Regions from separate parts of the Homo sapiens genome. Here regions 2 and 3 are each linked to region 1. Evidence: fine-mapped expression QTL. A gene starts in region 1. Each other region holds a variant in brackets. All regions are shown on one strand. Distances are from middle to middle. Region 1 holds the start of NEIL2 (nei like DNA glycosylase 2). Region 2 overlaps XKR6 (XK related 6). Region 3 holds the start of LOC105379243 (a long non-coding RNA gene).

Evidence for each region.
Region 2: its variant is fine-mapped to the expression of NEIL2 in testis (GTEx, PIP above 0.99).
Region 3: its variant is fine-mapped to the expression of NEIL2 in fibroblasts (GTEx, PIP above 0.99).

The regions. Positions count from the first base shown.
Region 1 is chr8:11,767,499-11,774,520 of GRCh38, forward strand. It overlaps NEIL2 (nei like DNA glycosylase 2), which reads left to right and starts at 2,212. Exons shown (of 5, transcript NM_145043.4): 1 at 2,212-2,837; 2 at 3,948-4,087. The coding sequence starts at 3,950. LOC124901888 (a long non-coding RNA gene) reads right to left here and starts at 3,952. Exons shown (of 2, transcript XR_007060824.1): 1 at 3,380-3,952; 2 at 1,304-2,910. RefSeq lists silencers at 2,023-2,432, 2,473-2,602 and an enhancer at 2,362-2,862.
Region 2 is chr8:11,093,292-11,100,419 of GRCh38, forward strand. The region is part of intron 1 of XKR6 (XK related 6); the gene reads right to left. Among named protein-coding and RNA genes, the nearest start is that of MIR598, 62 kb to the left of the region's middle. The variant AC/A (reference allele first, on the strand shown) is at 3,044.
Region 3 is chr8:11,797,615-11,802,614 of GRCh38, forward strand. It overlaps LOC105379243 (a long non-coding RNA gene), which reads right to left and starts at 3,741. Exons shown (of 3, transcript XR_948962.4): 1 at 3,699-3,741. It also overlaps a transcript of FDFT1 not described here. RefSeq lists enhancers at 2,401-3,044, 3,174-3,916, 3,917-4,658, 4,696-4,855 and silencers at 2,689-2,748, 4,926-5,000. The variant A/AGGGTG (reference allele first, on the strand shown) is at 2,418.

The DNA of each region.
Region 1 (7,022 bases):
GTAGCCCCTAGGGCCGGGCGCGGTGGCTCAAACCTGTAATCCCAGCACTTTGGGAGGCCAAGGAGGGAGGATCACCTAGGTTAGGAGTTCGAGACCAGCCTGGCCAACATGGAGAAACCCTGTCTCTACTAAAAATACAAAAATTAGCTGGGCATGCTTGTGCGTGCCTGTAATCCCAGGTACTTGGGAGGCTGAGGCGGGAGAATCCCTTGAACCCAGGAGGCAGAGGTTGCAGTTAGCTGGGATCGTGCCTGGGTTGCACTCCAGCCTGGGCAACAAGAGTGAAACTATGTCACGGAAAACAAAACAAAACAAAAATGTGGCCCCTAGACCACAGCATCAGCGTCACCCAGCAGCTTGCTGGAAAGGCAACATCTTGGGCCCTGGTATAGACCTTAGAATCTGCATTTAAACAAGGTTCCCAGGGGATTCATAGGTACATTGAAGTTTGAGAAGCGTGGCTTTGTGATATTTCTATAATACCATTTAATAGATATCCCATTTAATGAATGAAGTCAGAGATACTGTGACTTGCTTGTATCCCCACAACTAATAATGAAGCAATATATGCAAAGAGCTCACAACAGTGTTTTGCACATAGTACGCGCTCAATAAACAATAACAATCAATGACAGAGCCAAGCTGTGAACCATGAGATTTTCAATTGCATAGCCCCTTAGCCTCAGAAGAACCCCTTTAGGCACCAGGCATTCATTCCACCAGGTAAGGCGAGGACTGTGGCTACGGCTTCCCTCCCGGCTCAGCCACTCTACAGAAAGAGAAACTAGGGGGCCCAGAAGCTACCATTGTGGTGAGCCTGATCCTATAGCAGGGGCATCCTGGGGGTGGGGGGGTCGTTATTCTCCAGAAAAGGCCGGACATAGAAAGAGGGGGACCAGAGGCTCTTCAAGGGATGCCTCCTGCAAACCCCATGCCCTCCAACCTCATCCCCTCTGCCTCCAGATGCCTTTCTAGATGAGGACCCTATACCCTAGGCCTCCCCAGGCCTCCCTCTCCTCACCTCCTGCCCTAGCCTGTTCAGTAGGTGACCACTGTGGGAAGGCCACTTGTAACCTCCCTCTCAATCAGTAGGACACAACCATGTCTCTGACGGTGGGCTGGGCTTGTTTCCCTGTGCTGACCAAGTCCTTCCCCAGGGACCCCTCAGCTAGGGTCCATGGTGACTTCACCCCAGCCTATTTCCTGAACACCTGCTGGGGAGTTCCCCAGACTTTCCTCCCAACTTCCTGGAAAGTGCTGGCTCCCCATCCTCCTTCGAGAACTAAAGACAAGAAAACATATGTATCTTTAAACAGCCTATTGTTTTATCTCTTTTATTCTATGAAATAAAAAATTTAATACACAAATACTTTAAGCAAAATTTGCTTATAGTAAAAATTCAAGTAATAAAATTCAAATAATAGAAAGCAAAAAAATCCCACCCGTTCAACATTTCACGAGTCTTGAACACCTGTTTCCTTTGCACCCGACTTCATTAGGCTCGGAGGCCAAGCAGAACCCACAGAAAGGCTTGCCATTGTGGGAACACCCAGGCTGTCCCATTCACACACCCATTGACTTTTCCCTATAACTGTCTCCTTGAGACAAGAAATGTTCCAAAAGGGCCGGGTGCGGTGGCTCACGCCTGTAATCCCACCACTTTGGGAGGCCGAGGAGGGCGGCTCACCTGAGATCAGGAGTTCAAGACCAGCCTGGCCAACATGGTGAAACCCGGTCTCTACTAAAAATACAAAAATTAGCCGGGCGCCAGTAATCCCAGCTACTCGGGAGGCTGAGGCAGGAGAATGGCTTAAGCCCAGGAGGCGGAGGTTGCAGTGAGCCGAGATCGCGCCACTGCACTCCAGCCTGGGTGACACAGCGAGACTATCTCCCCCCGCAAAAAAAAAAAGTTTCCAAGAGCGTCTCTCCAATGTTAGTCCCAGCCTGCACCCTTCTTCCATCCCTGCTTTCACTCGCGACCCTCTAATGCAGCCCTGCCTCCAGCGACCCCCGGGATGGAACCCCTCGCCCACCCACAAAAGAGCAGCCTCGACCTAGACCCACTTTCCAGGGAATGAGCCCTGCGCCTGCGCGCACCCCGCCACCCCCTCCAGGCCGGAGTCCACGCCCACTTGGGGGAGGAGCCCCGCAGCCTCCACCTACAGGGGCGTCCCCTAAGGGGACGGAGGCCGCATGGGCCGCCGAGCCGGGAAATCTCCGCCCCCAGCTGGAGCGGCTGTGCGGGCTGCGTAGCGGTGCTGGGTCGGGCCGACGTGCCACCCACCCGGAGCCGGTGAGTGCAGCCGCCCGCCCTCCGGTAGATCTGCGGCCTGGCGGAGAAGTCGGGAGGGGACAGGAAGGGAGGGCGGGCCCCGGGCCCTCCTCCGTCTCAGCCGCCTGCGGAGGTGCTGCCCACGCCTGGAGGCCCCCACTGACCCTCAGACCCGCGTCTGCGCCCCTCTCCCCGCACCCCGAGGCAGAGTTGGGAAAGCAGTGGTCTTAGACCCCCCACCTCGGGCACTCGGAAGAGAACGGCGGAGACAACCCCTCCTCTTCCCTGGCTGGCGCAGCGCCAGCCTCGAGCTCCTCGGTAGCCCCCGGGCAGGGAGGGCCGGAGGGTGGGCGCGGCATCTTCAGCGACTCTTCGAAGTCCCTTCCGCGTCTCATCTTTCAAGGCTGTTGCAGAGGCGGCTTGCTTCCCACCTGTCCATCTCCATAAAAATCCCTAAACGAAACATGCCCACGTGTCCGGAGATTTTCAGGACTTGGTGCATTTCAGATGAAGGCTTTTCCAGAAGCTTCCCCGTAGAAGAGGATCAGGCATCCAACTGGTTAAGGTCAGCAGCGTTTGGCACGTCTCCTTCCAGCCTGGCGGTTTTGTCAGGATTCCCTGGGGAGTGTCTGGAAAGCCTGATGAGGGGAAATAGTACATCTCAGCGAATCGGCACCAGCGAGTGTAAGATGCGCGTTATTGAATGTGCTGCTGCCGAATATGAGAATGCCGAGATTGTGAGCCGTCACCATTTCTTAGATTTTAAAAGTATTCTAAAATGTTTTTTAGAATCACTGAAATATAATAGCTACCCCCTGCCCGATATCTACTTAGTTCTTTTCGATTTTCATCATAACTTATAGAGAGGCTGGTGCAGGAACAGGTGGTTAGGCAGCTGCCCCGGGTGAGGCTGGGAGTCTCCTCTGCCCGAACAGCCCGGGTGTACACCACTCAGACTGCCTCATGTAGGCGGCTGTCAGTGGACTGGGATGATTTGGGGGCAGGGAGAGTAGAGGTGGCCCTGGGAGCCCTGCGTGGTGATTAGAACAGAACCACAGCTGTTTCTCGGGGATCAGAGATAACTGTCTGTAGCTATGCCGGGCTTACCTACGTGGCTGGGGGTCTCACTTATGATTCTGAGCTCTGTCTGCGTGTTGGTCGTTTCATGCACACCTCCCCCACGCTAGTGGTCGGCGGTCCTGGAGGGCGGCATCTGGTCCCTTCAAAAGTGGGAAATAAGTCGGCAGCAGTGGGTCAGAATGGCTGTTTTTTGAGAGCGGGAGCAGGGGGACAGAGAAAGTCAGGAGGTGTTAGAGGTTCACAGTCCAGGCAAAAAGTAACAAAGGCCAGCTCCTGGTGTGGCAGGTGCCGCTCAGGAATAAAGTGGATGGTGCCCATGATGTGCTGCCTAGCACACTGTTGGTGCTTAATAAGTGTTTGCTGCATGAAGAAAGGTAAGAGGGGCTGCCTTTCCTGCTACGTTTCCCACACCCTGCCACAGCTGCTCTTCTCTATGATCTGACCGCCTCCCAGCCACACTCCCTTTTTGGCCATGCTTGCTCTTAAAGTTAGTTGGCAGCAAAAATGGCGGCATGGAGGATGCTTGGCACCTGTTAAAGATGCTAGAGATAAATGAGCTAAGTCGGTGGCCTCTTTTGCCCATTTCTGCCCACAGGGATGCCAGAAGGGCCGTTGGTGAGGAAATTTCACCATTTGGTCTCCCCCTTTGTGGGTCAGCAGGTGGTCAAGACAGGGGGCAGCAGTAAGAAGCTACAGCCCGCCAGCCTGCAGTCTCTGTGGCTCCAGGACACCCAGGTGAGGTAATACTCCTCTGAAGGGTTGGCTCTGTCGCCCATCCTGCGCCTCCCCTAGGATCTATCCCCATATGTCTCAGGGTGTCACTTCCCTGAGTCCGGAACCACCAAGCTCGGACTCCATGCAGCTCCCTCTTTCAGTCTCACGTGTCTCAGCCAGAAGTAGATATCGCTGTGGACTGTAGAACTGTAAAGAACACGTGTGGATGAGCTGGAGACCCCGATTCAGAGGGTCTGGAGTGCTCCTATTCTCTCCGGCCGCAGCTGATGGGCACCTTTGGCTGGGAACTGTGTTCTATTCCCCTGAGCCAGTGGAGAATTAAGGACAGAGCAGAACCGGCTGGGCACGGTGGCTCGCACCTGTAATCCCAGCACTTTGGGAGGCCGAGGCGGGTGGATCACTAGGTCAGGAGTTCAAGACCAGCCTGGCTAACATGATGAAACCCCGTCTCTACTAAAAATGCAAAAATTGGCTGGGTGTGGTGGTGGGCGCCTGTAATCCCAGCTGCTCGGGAAGCTGAGGCAGGAGAATTGCTTGAACCCGGGAGGCCGAGATTGCAGTGAGATGAGATTGTGCTACTGCACTCCAGCCTGGGTGACAGAGTGAGACTCCGTCTCAAAAAAAAGAAAAGAAAAGAGCAGAACCTTCAGATCTAGGTTCAAACCAGCTCATCCTTCCAGGGGCTCACGGAGCTCCCTGTTTTCTCACCACTGCCTCCCTCTCTAGCCTTCTTATCCTGCCCCAAACCTGTCTTCTGATCGATGAAACTGCCTTTGGCTCTTCTTAGTGTTTCTGTCCGTGGTTTTCACTTGCTGCCCCCTGCTCAAGCACTTCTTCCTTTTTCTCCCAACTCTGCCCCTGTTCCCTCAATTTATAATGGTAATTCCTGGTCTTCCAGCTTCCACTTGGCCATTGCATCCTCAGAGAAGCCTGCCCTGTCTGCTTTAGGTGGGAAGGAGACTCCATCTCTGTGCTTCCAGGACATCATGTACTTCCTCCTGTTCTTCCCTTTTTACTGAGTTGTTCTGCTTGTTGAGGGGAGAGGACAGATGCAGAGGGCAGGGGCTGCTCCTCGCCAGTATTGTGCCCCCAGCACTTAGCTGAGTGCCGGCACGTAGGAAGCACGGGTGGTGCCTGTGGATGAGCTCACGCGCTCTGCTGCTGCTTAGCCGTGTGCTCTTAAGCATGTTCATCTCATAGCTCTTTCTTCTATTGTAGAATGGAGATAAGCCATTGACCTCTTAAAGTTGTTGTTTTAAGTAGAGTTTATGCCTGGCACATAACGGGTACTCCATAAGTACTAGTTCCCTTTCTTCCATCTTGCCCTCACCCCCCACCCCCGCAACACACACACACAGAGGTTTTAAAACCGTTGTTAGTTAGAACTGGAAGAGATCCTGTAGCCCTGTACCCATAGTTGATTCCTTTGGAGACTGAGGCTCGGAGAAGGGAGTACTTAGCCCAAGCTCAGGTGGCTGGCAAGGAACAGGTGAGAGCACGGGGTCCCATGGCCTCCAGGACTGTGGCCTCTTTGTACACACTGTCCTTCGAGGTTTGCAGGGGCAGAATTGTCTCTTGTCTCTGGATCCCCAGCACTTACCAGGGTGTCTGCCACAGAGCTGGCTGTAAGAGAATATTTCCCAAGTGGATGGGTGGGCAGATGGATGTGCGGTGAAGGAACCCGTAGACGGGACTGGGAGCTGCTTTCCCAGTAAACCAAGCAGAAAACCATGTTGCAGGGAACCTAAGGTTGCAGGGAACCTTCGGGGCTGCCTGGCAGTGCTTTGAAGTGAGCGCCCTTCCCTGCTTCTCCCTGTCGGCGGGTCCCTGACCCTAGGAACTTAGAACTGAATTGAGAACATACGGCTTGTATCGACACAGGCCACACTATTAAGCTATGCTAAATGGGGAGGGCAGAGCACATCATAAAGGCCCAGGTAATGACCCTGACAGGAAGAGGTCCCGGTGGCCTGGAGAAGATGTGCAGGAGGTAGGACTTGAGTTGGGCCTTGAAGGCTGGAGGATTTCAGTGGACTGAAGAGGGAGGAAAGGGCATTTCAGGCTTGAGAAGCAGTTACAGGCGGGCCGATGGAGGTGGAGTGAGCAGGGTGAGTTGATGAGGCAGGAGGGAGCTTGGCTGCACTCTGTGCCATCTGTTTGTCTGGCACATCCTTTTCTTGTCAGCTCTCCATTTTCTATATAGGAGTTGTGTTGGATTACTCATAACAGACTCAGAAAAATGGCTACTCTAGCTCATGGTTTTCTCCTCCTCCAGTAATGGAACAGTCCAGGGTGGTATAGGAGCAACATTGGAAACCAAGCTCCTTCTACTCTCCCCTTCCAAGACTGGGTAATTTATGAAGGAAAGAGGTTTAATGGACTCACAGTTCTGCATGGCTGGGGAGGCCTCGCAATTATGGCAGTAGGCGAAGGGGAAACAAAGGCACATCCTACATGGTGGAAGGCAAGAGAGCTTGTGCAGGGGAATTACCATTTATAAAACCGTCAGGCCAGGTGCAGTGGCTCATGCCTGTAATCCCAGCACTTTGGGAGGCAGAGGTGGGCAGGTCGCCTGAGGTCAGGAGTTTGAGACCAGCCTGGCCAACATGTTAAACCCCATCTCTACTAAAGATGCACAAATTAGCTGGGCATGGTGGTGGGCGCCTGTAATCCCAGCTACTTGGGAGGCTGAGGCAGGAGAATTGCTTGAACCCAGGAGACAGAGGTTGCAGTGAGCTGAGATCGCACCTGCGCTCCAGCCTCAGCAACAGAGTGAGACTCCATCTGAAAAACAACAACAACAAAAAACCCATCAGATCTCTTGAGACTTATTTACTATCACGAGAACAGCCCCCATGATTCAATTACCTCCCACTGGGTACCTCCCACCAGGTCCGTCCCATAACACATGGGAATCATGGGAGTTATATTATTC
Region 2 (7,128 bases), 670 kb before region 1:
TGATCCGCCCACCTCGGCCTCCCAAAGTGCTGAGATTTCAGGAGTGAGCCACCACGCCCAGATCTTCCCCAGCTTTCTAGCCCAGCTTTTATCTCAAGTCAAAGCCTCACCCACTGCCCTTAGCACGAAGATGGCTATGCAAGAAAAACTTTTCTGCGAGCAGTTCTGGTGCTTCCCTGCTCCCCGCACTCCACTGTGGGTGGCGTCTTGTGCCAGCAGCACTTAGTGCCCGGCCACATCCTTAGTCTCTTAGTTATAATAGCCAGATGTTGGCAACATGGTCCTTTTCTTCTTCTTGAAATTCTCTAAGATGCCTTCAAATTTAGTTTAAGTATTTTATACTTAAATATTGGAAAAGGATATAAAAACTAGTGAATAACTACTTCAAGTCACGCCTATCTTTCCCTTTTTTCATTTCTTATAAGAAATAAATGTACTCTCTATAATTCAAAATTTACCCTTTATACTTCAGGGTCTTTACATTATGTAATTTTTTTTGTTTGTTTTTTTGAGATGGAGTCTCGCTCTGTCGCACAGGCTGGAGTGCAGTGGCGTGATCTCGGCTCACTGCAAGTTCTGCCTCCCGGGTTCACGCCATTCTCCTGCCTCAGCCTCCCAAGTAGCTGGGACTACAGGTGTCCGCCACCACGCCAGACTAATTTTTTGTATTTTTAGTAGAGATGGGGGTTTCACCGTGTTAGCCCGGATGGTCTCGATCTCCTGACCTCATGATCCACCCGCCTCGGCCTCCCAAAGTGCTGGGATTACAGGCGTGAGCCACCGCGCCCGGCCTTTTTTTTTTTTTGACAGAGTCTTGCTGTGTCGCCCAGGCTGGAGTGCCGTGGTCATATCCTAGATCCACTGAATCAGAAAACGTTTTTTAAAAAGACTTTCCATAAGCCCACAAACTTACAAAGGAGCAGAGCCAAGTTGCACATGATATATACATATATATGTATGTATCTCGGCTCACTGCAACCTCTGTCTCCGGGGTTCAAGCGATTCTCCTGCTGCAGCCTCCTGAGTACCAGCGATTACAGGTGTGCACCACCATGCCCAGCTAATGTTTTGTATTTTTGGTAGATAAGGGATTTCACTATGTTGACCAGACTGGTCTGAAACCCCTGGCCTCAAGTGATCGTCCCCCTTCAACCTCCCAAAGTGCTGGGAGTACAGGCCAGAGCCACTACACCCGGCCATTATCTACTTTTCATTTGGGGGCATTTGTAATTTCCCTCTCAAATGGATCAGAGGACCTCAGAAACAGAAAGGGACTTCTCCTGGGAACCCTCTGTCTCCCAAATACCCCACTTCAAATCATCCACTGCAGTGCACAGACTGGGGGCTGGTGGGACCGACATCGATGGAGTGGTTACTAGCAGCCAGACACTAGGCAGATGACCACACCTATCATCCTCACAGACCTCTGGGGTGGCATCAACGTCAGCATTGTCAATGTCATCATCAGCATCATCATTTCTGAGGCTCCAAGATTCCCAAGTTACTTACCCAAAGCCCAGGCCTGCCTGCACCTTCCCTCTCCTCTCCTGCAGACTGACTGCTGCTTCTTTAAAACACAGAATGCCACTAAAAAATAGGCTGAAGGAGGGAGAGCATCAGGAAGAGCAGCTAGTGGGTGCTGAGCTTAATACCTGGGTGATGGGATGCTCTGTGAAGCAAACCACCACGGCACATGCTAACCTATGTAACAAACCTGCACATCCTGCACATGTACCTCTGAACTTAAAGTAAAAGTTGGAAAGAAAAAAAGTAGGCTGATACAAAGGCAAATTTCCTTATAAAATCTTTAACGAGAAAGCCTGCAGCTCCAGGCTAGAGAAACAGGGATGTATTTTCAATATTAACTCATGAGTAGCGTTCAAGTTTGTGCAAATACGTAAGTGGACATTTTTGGTTGACTTTCTTTCCCCAAACTGCAAATATTATCTGCAAGGTCAACCCTCCATCTCAAATGAGATTCTGCTATATATCAAACAGCAATGAATCTTGGTTTTAAGAATTATATGAATGTAAGGTATTCTTAAATATATTGTATCTTCTAAGTTTTTTCTTTTTAAGAAGCTACTTGCTGTAGTGTTAGTAACACCTAAGACAAGCATGAGAATCAGCATGGAAGTCAGAAATGATCACATGCCAGTCAAATAGGTAACACTGACTTGTGAGACTGGTGCTTTTAGGCACCAGTGCAATTTTGCAGGGGCTCCCCCAGCACACACTGTTCTGAATCTCCTTTCTTCTGGAAGCTAGAATGACAGCCTGATTCTCCTAGTGAACAGATGTACTGACTGTGACAAAACGCACCCGCCATGCCAATAAATCTAATGAGTAACTCAAGCCAAAATATATATGTATATATCATGTGCAACTTGGCTCTCCTCCTTTGTAAGTTTGTGGGCTTATGGAAGGTCTTTTTCAAAAACATTTTCTGATTCAGTGGATCTGGGATATGACCCAGGCACTGGTAACATTTAAAAGCTCAAACGGGTGATTCTGATGCATATATCTGGTTAAGACTAGACCACATTTAATTCATGGTTGTATGTTCCTCAAAACACTTGCTGCCAATTAGTAATTCCACTGTTTTCCAATTAAGTCTATGATTAAAACTAACTTTAATTGTCATTTTATTTTTGGATTGGGAAGACATTTTTAACCACAAGAGCAGAAGAAAGCATAAAATAAAAACTTGACAAATTTGACTAGATAAAAGTAAACTTTTCTGAATGTCAAAAATGCTATCAACAAAGCTAAAGAATAAATGAGGGAAAATATATGTACCAGTGACAAAAGTTAATAATTCATCCAACAGATATTTTTAAAATATCTTTTGAATTGGTGATTCCACTTCTCAGTATTTACCCTAAGGAAATAAGCAGAGATGTATACAAAGATTCAGTACAAGGATACTTCCTTGCAGCATAACCTATTACATAATAAGAAACAGGCTAAAAGTTCATCAGTAACAGATGCCTGGATAAGCTGGCATGCATCCATCTGATGGAATGCCAACTTGTCAACAAAT[AC/A]TTTTAAATCTTATCTCAAAATTTGGTGGAACATTCAAATAGTTTTACACGGAAGAGTAGGTTACAAAACTTTAATAATAAAAATAATTTTACAGTTTCCTTTAATTTCTAATTTTTTGCAGTGAACATGTATTATGTTTTTAACAAAACACCATTAGAATACTGCACAACGAAGGCATTGGTGTATCTGAACTGAATAAGGTATCAGACGGATCAAAGCTTTCCATGCTACCATTGCACTCCTCAGTGGCAAATGCTTGGAAAAGGAAGATGGACCGATGTTAGTCAAGCAGCCTTTTCCTGGAAAAAGTAACCATGAGAGTCAAAGGCCCCCATGAGGTCCACTTTGCCCCACATCCCATCAACCCAGGACAGGCAGGCCTCCTGCCAACAGCTGGGTCCTTGGGCTCCAGCCGACAAAGTCTACAACTGACTTCCATGTTGGTGTCTTCTTATCTTTGTATTGCAGTTTTTAGCTGTTTTTCAACAAATACCATATGAAGAATATGCATACTCAAGACCTCACTGAATGTCACCCAAACACCAAATGAAAATCTAGCTGGAATGAAGACATTTGGTTTCAGGATGGCAGATTCTGAGAGATTTCGCCCACTTGCATATGATTTGCACATCCTTTGTACCATCTGATGAGAACGGTGTGCTCCATCAATCAATGCCACTGAGTTCTCAAGTTTCAGTTCCATCCAGAAGATGGAAGGTTGCCTAGAGTCAAGTTAAATCTGATTTCCTCAGAGATAGTCAAGTAAGTTTGTCATCAGCAACAGGACACTTGCCATCTGACATGGCAAGGCTAAGAACTCTCATATAGACTTTGTCTCCTTAGCCCACTTGGTCCCACTCATAAGCCCTCAAGAGACACAAAGTGATAATAAAAGTATTTGTGTATTTTCCCCATTGGGTTTCCAGAAATGTCATTTTCGTCACACCCTCCCACTCACCACTTCTACATTCAGGATGCAATACTGCAGCCAGAGTTGGTACAATGCAAACATTCCACGAGAAGTTAGAAAACTTGGGTTCCAGCATAAACTTGAGCAATATGCCACTTTGAACCCATTTTCTTATGTGTAAAAGTAGATAATACCAGCACTGCTGAACACACAGGGCAATATTTTCTTTTTTTTTTTAAAAAAAAAAAGGCAATAAATATTGGTTAAAAAAATTATACAGGCTGGGTGCGGTGTCTCACACCTGTAATCCCAGCACTTTGGGAGGCCGGGGTGGGCGTATCAACCGAGGTCAGGAGTTCAAGACTAGCCTGGTCAACATGGTGAAACCCCATCTCTACTAAAAATACAAAATTAGCCGGGCGTGGTGGTGCACACCTGTGGTCCCAGCTACTTGGGAGGCTGAGGCAGCAGAATCGCTTGAACCCAGGAGGCGGAGGCTGCAGTGAGCCAAGATCACGCCACCGCACTCCAGCCTGGGGGACAAGAGCTAGACTCCATCTCAAAAAAAAAAAAAAAAAAAAATTATACAAATGTAAAGTATTACTAAATACATCGTAAATTCTACAGTTTTTTTTTTTAAAGCTATTTGCTATAGTGTTAGTAACATCTAAGGCAAGATGAGAATTCACGTGGAAGTCAAAAATAATCACATGCCCATCAAATACGTAATATCAACTGGTGAGACTGGTGATTTCTGGGAACCGGTGCAATTTTGCAGGGGGGCTCCCCCAGCATACACTGTTGTGAAAGTTGTTGGCAAGCTAGAGCCTTGCTAGGCTCTGCAGTTTACAGACCAGCAGCACTGGCTTCGACTTCCGGCTTGTTAGGAAGGCAGAATCCCACGACCCACTCCAGAAATACCGAATTGGAATCTGCAATTGAACTAGATCCCCAGGTGACTCTCTCACACACACACACGCACTCACACACGCACAACACACACACACGCATGCACACACACATGCACGACACACAGGCGCGCGCGCACACACACACAAAGTTTGAGGACTGAGCTGGAGGCCTGTCAATCCTGGTAGCATTATTTCTAAGAGCTGGTACGTGAGCAAGAGGACCCAGTGGACTCGGTGAACTTGAGGTCCTATTTTTAGCAGTCTCGAGTTTTTCCTGACGCTACTAATGCTGTGTGTACTTCTCACTCACGGAATACGAGGTGTCAGAAAGCACAATTTGGAACTGTATCTTGGTAATTTCACAACTGGGACAGGAACTCTTGTCTCATCAGAACTATGCCGAAAAGCTTTCTCCATAGGCTAGGATGACTATGTGGTCATGCATGTTTGAATTATGTTCCTGTTTCCAATTAAATATCCCTTACAGAAAGGTTCAAGGTACCTCTTTTATAGTATGTGGAAAGTTTATTTTTGAATAATTTATTTATTGCTTGCACAAGTGATAAGAACCTCTTAGAAATCTTGTTCCCTTAACTATTAGTCTATTCACATTCTTGGACGAATAAAAAGCTTTACTTTCTTTTGAATCTTAAGTGGGGCTAGGAGGGAGAAATACAAATTCTGTTCTGTTTCAAAAGTTGGTTTTAAATAGACTTTGCATCTTGGAAACTTCTGGAACATTCCCCCATGGAAAAAAAAATGATTATTAGGTTCTGAATTGAGCTCATGTAGGTGTAACATAGAAAGGGGTATTAATAAGAATTTTCTTTATGGGTATAGTCTAGGAGAATAATGAGCTTCTTCCCCCTTCCCTAGCCCCTGGGCACCCTCAACGCCCCACCAGGTAGGCACGCTGTCCATTTTCGCCCTCCTCTGTCCAAAAAGCAGCAGCTGCCACCTCCCTGGGAAGAGGCAGGCACCCTATTACAGCTCCCGCTCCACTGAACCACATCTCCTTTCTTCAGATCTCTTCTCTTAGCTGGGTACAGCAGGAGGGCAATCGTCCAACCAAAGTCACATCGAAAATCTGGAAGCTTGGCAAGGCTGTCCAGCTGACTTTTGTCACCCTGGCCTCTAACACAATAGCCACACCATTGCTGCTGCCCAATAAATACCTGTTAAATGGCTGAATCTACTAAAACATTTTTAAAAGATGATGCTTATCATTAGCACAAGTCAACCTCCAACTGGGGGAATTTTAGGCTCTGGCTTCAAGTGAAAATTCTGGGAGAGAAGGGGCTGGAGGCAGGAATGGCACTGCTGGGCAGGGCAGCCCTGCCTGGAGAGCGAGCTCTGAGATCAGCTCCTCTCTTACAGTCGCTGGATTTTTTTCATAACTCCTTTACTTTCTTTACTTCTAAATCCACATTCTTTAAAATCTCCAAGTTTCCTTGCAACTCCCTAGGCAAGGGCAATGAAGGATTTACTCATTCACTCGCTCAAATATTATATAGGTATTGAATTTCTAATGTGTCTCACGCATTGTTCTAGGTCTTGAAAAAACAGCCACCAACAAAACAAAGCCCCTGCCCTCCCTGAGCATATATTTAGCGGAGGAGACAAAACTATAATGTGAGGTCATGATGGAGGTGATGAGGAAGTTAAGGGAGACCATGGCAGAGGTGCCACTCTAGACAGGCTGGGCAGAGCCCTCTCTGCGGAGGAGACAATTTAGCAGAGATGGAGCCATAAGCACATGGGGAGGAGCATCCTAGACAAAGCGAGCAGCAAATGCAAGGGCCCTGAGGCACGGGGGAGTAGGGCACCCTAGCGGGTTGGGCGCTGGGAGGGAGAGGGGGTGCAGCCAGTTTAAGTAGGGCTCATTTTTTTTCTTTTCATTTTGTTTTGTTTTGAGGCAGGGTCTAACTCTGTCGCCCAGGGTGGAGTGCAGTAGCACAATCTCAGCTCACTGCAGTCTCGACCTCCCCAGACTCAGGCGATCCTTCCACTTCAGCCTCCCAAGTAGCTGGGACTACAGGCATAAGCCATCATGCCGAGCTAATTTTCCGTATTTTTTGTAGAGACGGGGTCTTGCCACGTTGCCCAGGCTGGTCTCGAAATTCTTGGGCTCAAGCAATCTACCCACTTCGACCTCCCAAAGTGCTGGGATTACAAGTGTGAGCCAATCCACTTGGCCTCATTTTTAAAAAAGAATAGAATTTATGACTTCCACCTAATCCAAGCCTTCCACCTAATGGGACA
Region 3 (5,000 bases), 29 kb after region 1:
CCTGTCTGTCTCTCACACACACTCAAAAAAAAAAAAAAAAAAAAAAGAAACAAACAAAAAAAACGGTGGGGGAGGGGAACAGATAAAGGAGAGGCCAGGAAACACCAGAAAAGGATTCCTGAAGCAGATTCCACCTGAGCTGTAATGGAGGCGTGGCAGGTGGCTAGGCAAGGAGCAGGAAGCCTATTCCAGGCAGGTGAATTGCTTGGGCCAAGGCCGGATGTGAAGTACTGTAGCCTGTTCGGGGGACAATAAGTGCTGCTAGGACTGGATCAGGGTGTGAAAGTAGTACAAGAATGGGTGGACAGGAGGCTGAAATCCCAACAAAGGATGTAGATGCCAAATGGCAAGGACGTTTTTATTCTATGCCAGAAGGCTTGATTTCCTTTAAATCAATCCATTGATTCGAAGACATTTCATTGGAGGAATTTAAAATGGAAGGATTATAATCAAGTGTGTGTTTTTATTTTTTATTTTTTTGAGACGGAGTCTCACTTTGTTGCCCAGGCTGCAGTGTGGTGTGGTGATCTCGGCTCGTGGGTTCAAGCGATTCTCCAGCCTCAGCCTCCCGAGTAACTGGGATTACAGGCACCCACAACCACGCTCAGCTAATTTTGGTATTTTTAGTAGAGACGGGGTTTCACCATGTTAGCCAGGCTGGTCTCAAAGTCCTGACCTCAAGTGATCCGCCTGCATTGGTCTTCCCAAGTGCTGGGATTACAGGTGTGAGCCACTGCACCCAGCCCAGTGTGTGTTTTAGACGAATAACTCTACCTGCCATATGGGAAAGGACAGGGGAAGTCAACTTCAACATGGTTTGGGAAAGAAGATGTGGCTTAAACCAAGATGGAGCAGAGAGGAGAGATTAAAATGAAAGGTATTTGTTTTCTTGGACTCCACAGGACTTGATGAATGATTTTGAAGGGGTGGATATAAGGAGAGAAAGGGCGTTATCAATGACACCTGGATTTTGTGATTACAAAACTGAGAGGCTGTTAACGCTATCCACAGGAGAAGCAGATTTAATGGAAGAGAGATTTAAAGAATGGGCACGTTAACTAACTTTGCATTGTTTAGGCACCATCGTGTCCTATACGCAGCTCAATTCAATAAATACTCATTGAGCACCCAATAAATATTCATTGAGCCAGTATGTGCTGGGCACTATTCCAGATGGTTGAGGGGACATTAGTGAGCAAAACAAAGGTGTGTCGTCACTGAGCTTAGATTTCTAGTGTTGACTTAAAAAATATGATTTATCAATTTAGAAAGGGAGAAGAGCCTTTATTTCTTCTAAAGGGTTACAGCATGCTTCCAGCTTAGACCACAGACGGGCACTTTGAAGGAAAAGGCGTTTGAGGTAGGAGCTTTATGCTGACTGGGTTGGCTAAACGTACATATTTAACAGATTACAAGAGGAGCTACGAATATTTATGATGGCGGACCTGACACATTGAACAAACATGTATGTAATATATGACCCATATTCACTTTGGGATAGAGACTCAACATGTGAATGCATTACAATTACACCCTATAGGTCAAAAGGTCTTTTTAGGACAGGAAGGCGCCTTGAGTGTACAGTTTCTGTAAACTGGCCAGACCAGTCCACGGTCGGCGGTCTTATCAGGAGAAAGTTACTGAGATCAATCTCTTGACCAGTCAAAGCTGTAGTTATGGCTGGTGGAACAGGGGTTCAATTAGTCACTGTCTGGTGGAGCTGCAGGTGTTTTACTATTGCTTATCTCAAGGCCAGCGTTTAGCTGCTGGAGAAAAAGAAGAGCCCTGTGGCAGTTAGAGCTTAGTTGATTCTTCAAGTGTAGGGGTGCCTGACTTCACCATTGCCTGCATGGCCTTAGGTCCTGTTTATAATTGGGTATCTTATTGCCACAGAGTCTGTTCCGTTAGTCTTATGATCTCTGTTTTAATGTTAATGCCAGCCAGTTGTGTATGAACTCCAAAAGGAAGGGGGTACAATGAGGGCTATCTGATCTCCTGTCCCGTTATTTGAAATGCTTTTTCCCTGGTGCTGGAAAGAAATAGCACTTGTAGGCTGGGAGCCGTGGCTCACGCCTGTAATCCCAGTACCTGGGGAGGCTGAGGCGGGCGGATCACGAGGTCAAGAGATTGAGACCATCCTAACCAACATGGTGAAACCCTGTCTCAACTAAAAATAAAAAAATTAGCTGGCCGTGGTGGTACATGCCTGTAGTTCCAGCTACTCGGGAGGCTAAGGCAGGAGACTCACTTGAACCTGGGAGCCAGAGGTTGCAGTGAACCAAGATCGCGCCACTGCACTCCAGCCTCACGACAGAGTGAGACTCCATTTAAAAAAAAAAAAAAAATGAAGAAGAAATAGCACTCGAAGGCTGGGCGCAGTGGCTTGCCTGTAATCCTAGCACTTTGGGAGGCCGAGG[A/AGGGTG]GGGTGGATCATGAGGTCAGGAGTTCAAGACCAGTCTGGCCAACATGGTGAAACCCTGTCTCTACTAAAAATCGAAAAATTACCCAGGCGTGGTGGTTGGGCGCCTGTAATCCCAGCTACTCGGGAGGCTGAGGCAGGAGAAGCACTTGAACCCAGAAGGCAGAGGTGGCAGTGAACCGAGACTGTGCCACTGCACTCCAGCCTGGCAACAAGAGTGAAATTCTGTCTCAAAAAAAAAAAAAAAAAAAAAAAAAAAAAAAAGGCGCTTGAACATTAATTTACTAAGCAGGCCATTTTTACTTCCTGCAGAAAGGGTACACTCGCCAGCAGTTTTGCCATGGGAGTATACCAAACAAAGGAGACAGGGTCATTTATAACCTGACTCGTCCACCCCACTGCTTGTGTCTAGTTTCCATTGGCTGGAACGGTGCCTCACGTTCTGTATTTGTCCCGATTGGCTAGCAACTTAGAAGTTTTTAAAAGAGGCAAAGGTAGAGGAGAACAAAGGAAGGAGGAAGTAACTTGTGGAATGGTGACAAAGGTTGAAACACCTTCAAATAAGGAAGAGGAACAGGCTATGACCTAATGCTTTCTTGGACCACTATAAGCATGCCAGGGCAAATATTTAGGCTAAATTGTGAGAGCTAAGAACATGAAGTACATTGATTTCTTTATCATAGCTAGCAGATATTTAAGAATGTTAGCACAGGTCTTTGAATAAAGTTTGCTTCTAAGAGAAGTTACTATTTATTCCTAATTAAATGGGGAGGAAAGTCTTTGAAGAGGAACCTCTACTTTACTTTTTATACCGTCATGGCTGGAAACTAAGTTTTTAAGATTTTTCTGGGGTTCCCTTGGCCGAGGTGGGGAGTGGGAGGGCTGTCCAGTGGTAGGGACTTAGGATTTTTAGTTTACAGTAGTAGGGGAAACACTCTGTAATCTAATACATAAGTAAATGATGTATTAGAATATGGTAAATATAGGCAAGTAGACCCCCACTGGGATTAGCAGTGGTGGAAATGTGAGAGAGGGCAAACAGGTGGGTCTAGATGAGGTGTGAGCAGACTCGAGGGGCACAGGAGTTAGTCAAGCCAGTATCTGGGGGATAGTGCAGGAATAGTGAACAGCTAGACAAAAAGTCCTAGGGCCAGAGAAAGCAAAAGCATAAGAGATGGAGGCCAGAGAGGTAATCTGGGTGGAAGGCTGCAGCCTCTCAGGATCCCTATAGGTGCTTTGGCTTTTGTTGGAGAGACACTGAACAGCTTTGGGCAGTGAACGTACCTGACAGGTTTCCTGTTTGTTTTTGAGATGAAGTCTCGCTCTTGTCCCCCAGGCTGGAGTGCAATAGCGCGATCTCAGCTCACTGCAACCTCTGCCTCCTGTGTTCAAGCGATTCTCCTGCCTCAGCCTCCCAGGTAGCTGGGATTATAGGCGCCTGCCACCATGCCTGGCTAATTTTTGTATTTTTAGTAGAGACGCAGTTTCAGCATGTTGGCCAGGCTGGTCTTGAACTCCAGACCTCAGGTGATCCGCCCGCCTTGGCCTCCCAAAGTGCTGGGATTACAGGCATGAGCCACCGCGCTCGGCTAGACCTGACAGGTTTTAAAAGGATTACTGGTTGCTGTGTTAAAACAGACTGCAGGATGGCTTAGGTAGCCAGTAGGTTTTTTTTTTTTTTTGGAGACGTAGTCTTGCTCTGTTGGCCTGGCTGGAGTGCAGCGGTGTCATCTTGGCTCACTGCAAACTCCGCTTCCCGGGTTCAAGTGATTCTCCTGCCTCAGCCTCCGGAGTAGTTGGGACTACAGGCGCCCACCACCACACTCGGCTTTTTTGTATTTTTAGTAGAGACGGGTTTCACCATGTTGGCCAGGATGGTCTCGATCTCTTGACCTCGTGATCCACCCGCCTTGGCCTCCCAAAGTGTTGCGATTACAGGCGTGAGCCACCACGCCTGGACGGGTAGCCAGTAGTTTCTAGGGCTGGAGAGATCTAGGATGAGAGAAGTTTCCACATTCCTGTTACAGGCTCTCTAAGGCTTCAGCTCCTTTTTCTAGGACTAAGCTGGATCTCAAGTAAACACTAGAGAGGGGGCAGCTGAAGCTCCAGGAGTGTGTGGGGCTCCCTGGGGCTGGATGGCGGTGGCGGGCAGGCGAGCTGGGCTGTGCTCGGGTGTGTTACAGTAAAGACGCCCAGCTTGGCGCTGGCCCGGCCTTTTCACGGTTTTAGGCTCTACAGAGAGCGGCTGCAGAGCTCACCCGGCTGGCAGGAGCCACCGAGGCCGGACACGTGGGCGACTTATTGACCAAGTGGGGAGGAAGCAGCCCCGCACTGCTCTCCCGACTGCGGACCACCGTTGGGCTCCTGCGCATCCTAAGCCCCACCGCCTCACCTCCAGTCCCCACAGCGTTCGCGCTCCCAGCCGGGGTAAGCGGAAGAAAACAAAGGCCCGGCTCCATCAGGGCACCAATCCCGCTCGTCGGCCTCTTTCTCGGCCTCCAATGAGCTTCTAGAGTGTTATCACGCCAGTCTCCTTCCGCGACTGATTGGCCGGGGTCTTCCTAGTGTGAGCGGCCCTGGCCAATC